2 separate regions of the Homo sapiens genome follow, and region 2 is linked to region 1. The links come from fine-mapping of genetic effects on gene expression. A gene starts in region 1. The other region holds a variant in brackets. All regions are shown on one strand. Distances are from middle to middle. Region 1 holds the start of TBX1 (T-box transcription factor 1). Region 2 overlaps TXNRD2 (thioredoxin reductase 2).

What was found. PIP is the estimated chance that this variant, and not a neighbour inherited with it, causes the effect. A credible set is the group of variants that fine-mapping cannot tell apart.
Region 2: its variant is the best candidate, but not a certain one, in a credible set for the expression of TBX1 in skeletal muscle (GTEx, PIP 0.64).

Annotation. Positions count from the first base shown.
Region 1 is chr22:19,759,508-19,762,324 of GRCh38, forward strand. It overlaps TBX1 (T-box transcription factor 1), which reads left to right and starts at 1,271. Exons shown (of 7, transcript NM_001379200.1): 1 at 1,271-1,773. The coding sequence starts at 1,337. RefSeq lists an enhancer at 2,326-2,817.
Region 2 is chr22:19,883,430-19,886,322 of GRCh38, forward strand. It overlaps TXNRD2 (thioredoxin reductase 2), which reads right to left. Exons shown (of 18, transcript NM_006440.5): 12 at 1-32. Among named protein-coding and RNA genes, the nearest start is that of RTL10, 30 kb to the left of the region's middle. The variant C/A (reference allele first, on the strand shown) is at 1,215.

The DNA of each region.
Region 1 (2,817 bases):
CCCGCTGTCTCCCCGAGCCAGTGCGTTCAGCATCGCCTCTCTGGTTGCAGCGGAGGCGGCGGAGCGCACCGCCCACCAGGGCTCAGGGTCCTCCGACCGGGTGAAGCTTCGCTGGCTGCCAGGATCCCCGGCAGGGATGCACTTCAGCACCGTCACCAGGGACATGGAAGGTGAGCCTCCAGGCCGTGTCTACACTGGCCCGCCCGCCAGACCCCCTGCCTCAGCTGCTGTGGGGCCCGGGTGCAAAGTAGGTGGAGGCAGCTCTTGGTAGCGTGGGCTCCAGGCTTCTGGCTGCGATTCTGGGGCAGAGAGGAAGAGCCGGCATCCCGCCCACAGCCTGTCCCCTCACCAGCCTGGGGGCCCAGCTTGGAGATGGGCACTCAGGTATACACAGGCCCGGAAGAGGGCGAGTGAGGCTGGGAAGGAGAGCAGAGGTGGCCGTGAGCCTGGAGAGGGGGGAGGAAAGTTAATAAGAGAGGAGAGAGCGGGAGAGTTTCACAGAAGGAGAGAAAGCCTCGAGGAAGCCGTGGAGACGAAATTGAGCAAAGGGGAGAAAACACAAAAAACCCAAAGAAGAAGGTAGGGGAGAAACAGAAGGACACGAAAAGGCAATAAAAAGCAAGAGCGAAAGAGAAGAGAGAAAACGAAGGGAAAATTTAAGACAGAAAGCGAAGTCATAAAAAAGAAAAAAAGGAAAGACTTTAGTTTTTTTTTTTTTAAAAAGAAAAACATAAAAAACAAAGGACATACAAAAATAAGAGGAAAGGCACCGACTAAAAGAAAGACAAAGAATGATTAAAAATAAAGTGAAAAGGAAGGCGAGGATGGAGGAAAAGGGGAAGAGGCGGAAAGTAAAACAGAAATAAAGAGAAACTACAGAGATAGGGGAAGAAAAAAGATGATCGGGAGGGAAAATTTAAATGAGGACGACAAAGGTAAAATAACAAATTAGGAAAAGAACGTCTGGGAGAGAGAGAGGAGAAACGCACGCGGGCGGGCGGCAGAGCGAGGGCCGGCCGACGGGCCCGGCGCACCGGTGAGCCGGTCCGGGCGGTCGGGGGGCCCCGGGCCGAGCGAGCCGCGGCGGGCGGGCTGGGGGCCGGGGAGGGGGAAGGGGCGGGGGAGGGGCGAGGGCCGGGGGAGGGATCTAGTCCATTGTCTCCGCGCGGGGGTGGGGGGGCCCCGGGCGGGGCGGGGCGGGGCGCCTCCTCGGGGCCGGCCTGCGGTGTGGGGCTGCACGGCCCGGGGCGCACGCAGCGCGGCGCCCGCCACTCGGCCCGCGGCGCGGGGCAGCGCTCAGCTTGGTGGCGGGGGCGGCGGCGGCGGCCCGCGGGTCATGATCTCCGCCGTGTCCAGCCCGTGGCTCACGCAGCTCTCGCATTTCTGCGACGTTGCAGCCTTCACGGCCAGCAGCCTGAGCAGCCTGGGGGCCGCGGGGGGCTTCCCGGGCGCCGCGTCGCCCGGCGCCGACCCGTACGGCCCGCGCGAGCCCCCGCCGCCGCCGCCGCGCTACGACCCGTGCGCCGCCGCCGCCCCCGGCGCCCCGGGCCCGCCGCCGCCGCCGCACGCCTACCCGTTTGCGCCGGCCGCCGGGGCCGCCACCAGCGCCGCCGCCGAGCCCGAGGGCCCCGGGGCCAGCTGCGCGGCCGCAGCCAAGGCGCCGGTGAAGAAGAACGCGAAGGTGGCCGGTGTGAGCGTGCAGCTAGAGATGAAGGCGCTGTGGGACGAGTTCAACCAGCTGGGCACCGAGATGATCGTCACCAAGGCCGGCAGGTCAGGGCGCCCCTCCCCACGCCGCGACCCTCCCCACGTGCTGCCGCCAGGGCTGCGGGCCTCCGCCTGATCCGCGCGAGCGGGGCCGAAAGCCGGGTCGGGGGCGCGGCCTGGCCACCTGCGGGCCCCTCTGGGCCCCGCTGCCTCCTTCGCTGTTCGCCGTCCCGGCTCCGGCGACAGCCGCCCGGCGCTCCCCTCCTAACACCTATCCTCCGCCGGGGCGGGAGGAGACGGCGCGGGCCGCACGGGAACGGCGAGGAGCCCCGCGGGACTCGCCCGCCCGCCCCGCAGCCCCAGGACGCCGCGCGGCCCAGAAACCGGCCCGGCTTGGGGCGCACCCGGCTGGGGGCAGGCAGCGGCGTCCAGGGGGCCTCACCGCCCGGCCGACTCCTAGTAAATCCCACCTCAAGAAAACTCTGGTTCAGTTCTGGAGTTCAGTCTATGCGGGCAAGATAAAGAGCGGCAGCCGGGCAACTCTCTGGACACTTTCAGGAGAGGATTACCCTTAAAAACAGCGTGCACTGTTGCGTGGAAGTTGCTACCCAGTTTCCTTCAACCTAGATCCCTATAGTTGTGGGGCCTGGCTCTGTATCCAGCGGCCCGTCACCTCCCAACCGGCCTGTATTTGTTTTAAAGACCAAGAGACAAGGGGAACAAGTTTTGCAGATGCACCCGATTTGACCGGTAGACAAAGGCGGGTGCCGCGCTGTGTCTAATGTACACACCAGCTCGGAGTCCGAACAGCCAAGGGGAGCTCAGGGCCTGTTTGCAAAGCCTTCTCGTGGTTTCTGTTTCCCTGCTGCCGGCGTCCTTTCTGAGGAACCTGGGCCTGTGCTCTGCTCCAGCTCTGTGGTTTTTTTCCAGGCCCTCCTTGCTGTCCCCAGGCACACAGGCCCTCCTGAGGACAGCGGCAGCCCAGCCGCTGGCTCAGGCCAGCCCGGCAAGGGCCTTGTCGGCGCTGGGCTTCACCCGGGAGCCCACGTCCCGCAGCACCCTCCAGCCTGCAGAGGCTTCGGGTGGGGGAGGGAGCGGGCCTGTCCTAGA
Region 2 (2,893 bases), 120 kb after region 1:
CAAATTCAGACTTCTGGTGTCTGGGACTCGACCTGAAGGAAACAGAGAGGGGGCTGAAAGGTTATCTTCAGTGGCTTTGACCTAGAGCGGTTGTGTTTAAACTGTTTCTCAGAATGTCCACTTAGAGACCGGGTGCAGTGGCTCCTGCCTGTAATCCCAGCACTGTAGGAGGACGAGGTGGGCAAATCACCTGAGGTCATGAGTTCGAGACCAGGCTGGCCAACATGATGAAACCCTGTCTCAGCCAGGCGTGATGGCTCATGCCTATAATCCCAACACTTTGGGAGGCCGAGGCAAGTGGATCACCTGAGGTCTGGAGTTCAAAACCAGCCTGGCCAACATGGTGAAACCCCATCTCTACTAAAAATACAAAATTACCTAGGCGTAGTGGTGCACACCTATAGTCCCAGCTACTCGGGAGGTTGAATCGCTTGAACCCAGGAGGTGGAGGCTGCAGTGAGCTAAGATTGCACCATTGCGCTCCAGCCTGCGCAACAAGAGCAAAACTCTGTCTCAAAAAAAAAAAAAGAAAGAAAAGAAAAGAAAGAAACCCTGTCTCTATTAAAAATACAAAAATAGCTGGGTGTGGTGGCATGCACCCGTAATCCCAGCTACTTGGGAGGGTGAGGCATGAGAATTGCTTGAACCCGGGAGGTGTCGGTTGCAGTGAGCCAAGATCACACCACTGCACTTCAGCCTGGGCGACAGAGTGAGACTGTCTCAAGAAAAAAGAATGTCCACTTAGAACTGGCCAAATGTGAAGCACCAGCAGCGTAGAGGGGCTCCTGGCCTCTGCAGGAGGTGGCAGGCAGGTCTGAAACGGACACTGGTCAGATGACAGCCGGCACAGGAGACAAGGCAGGGGTGCCACCGGTGGAAACTGGAGTCGGCCTTAGACTGGTTCCTGGCACGCGGGAAAGGAAGAGGCACTTGCCAATGCTGGGGCTCCCTGACATCAAAGAGTGCTAAGCGCGGGACTCCAGAATCTTCCGCATGCCCAGGCCTCAGGCCCTGCTGCAGGGCCACCAGCACAGTGCCAGTGGCTCTGGTACTGACTTCATCCGGAGAAACCAGCCCTTCATGGGGAGCTGTTGGCACCTGGCCTGCCTGGCCTCCCTGCATCTGTCTGCAGCACCACAGCCTGATACCATTAGGCAGTGAGATCCATCAGCTCCCAGGCCTCAAGAGTCCAGAGGGGCCTCCTTCAAGGGACA[C/A]CTGCTGGCTCCCAATGGCCTCCTCCCTATCTGGACAAGCTGAAGAGGAGCCAGCCACACCCTGGACTGTACCCCAACAATGCTCAAGTCCTGGGATCTGGCCCTCTGCCCAGGTAGGGCTTGAAGGTCTCTCCCCATTAGGAGAAAGCAAGCCCCCGTAACCCGCTAGTAGAGGGCCAGGTGAGCAGAGCTAGCAGCCGGGTCTCCCACCTGCTCTGTGCTGCAGCCCCTCGTGGCTGCCTGGCACACAGTCCCAGCCTAGAGACCTCAGGGCCAAGGGGAGCTGAGCTAAGGGGCAGTGTCCAAACTACACCGTGCCCATTCTAGGGGGCAGCTGGCTCAGCTGATCCTGCTCTTGGGTGCAAAGGCCAAGAGGGGCAGGGGATGGCCAGTCCAGGGGGTCAGCACAGCTGCCCCCTGCCAGTCTCCACACAGCCTGGGGCCCGGAGAGAGGGCACCGCATGGGCCTCTTCATAGCCGAACAGCCAGCAGAGGTCCCTTTCTCCCCTAACTCAGATGGGTGTGATTTTGCCAGGCCAGCGGATGGCCACAGCAGCTTTTCCCTCCCAACCCCAGGTGCTCTCGGCTCCCAGGGGCTCAGGATGATCCACCAATGGCGAAGGCAATTTTGCCTCAAAAGCATAGCTCCCCTGCTCATCGTGGCTGGGACAAACCAGCTGCTGGCCGGTATGCGGGTGGCGCCCACCTAAGCATCTGGAAGCTGAAGCTCCCGTGAGAGGGAACCCTTAAGTCTCCAGCTGCTGTCCCGGGGCAGGAGTCAAAACATACCAACTTGGCTAAGCCAGCTTGCGGGAGGCCGGCTCCAGCCTCTGTGCTCTGCTCAGCCGCAGGAATTGGGTGCCGGGAGGGCTGGCACCGGTCGGGGATCAGCCCAGACACAGGGGATGCCAGCCCACATCAGAGGAAGGAGCTGGGCCCCATGGGCAGGGCTGGGGCACGAAGGAGGGGCTGTGGTCCCTGCAGGCCGGGGGCTCACGCTCAGCCGTCTGGTCCCTCTCCAACCTGGTGTCCAGCCCACCAGGCCCAGCACTTCCTGGTGCCTGCTCCGTGCCGGAACAGAACATCTGACGCTGCACCCACACTCTCCTCTGCACGCTTGCCTGGCTGGTCCTGGGAAGCCAAGAGCACTCATCATGTTCCTCATGGTAACTATGGCACTATGGCAACTACAGACCTTGCAGGTGCTGACCAAACCCTGTCCCCAGGTCCCGAAGGAAATAAAGATAAATTTAAAAGTAGTCACAAGAGATAAAAGAGGCATGGAAATAGGTGGCCCATCCAAAGCCAGGACTCTTCCGCACATGCTCTGTGGATCACTCTGGGAAGTCGGTGGGAATGTAATGGAGCCACTAATGTGAAAGGCATGACAGCTGGACAGGCTGGATGGCCAGGGGAGAGTGGGCTGCGCGGCACAGACACGCCTGGCCCTGCAGGGACTCCACAGCCCTTCGGGAATGAACAGCAAAAGAAGAGTGAGTGGCCTGTGGCAGGCAGCAGGCTCAGCCCTGAGGAGGGCAGCCGAGGGCACAGTGGGGTTAGAAGCTGGGCTGGTGGGACGTGGCTGGGAGTGGGTGCAGGGAAGAGGCCAGCTCCACTTGGGTGGGGCCACGTCCCTAGCCGTGGCCAGCCCTGATGGCAGGACACCAGGCCCTGAGCCC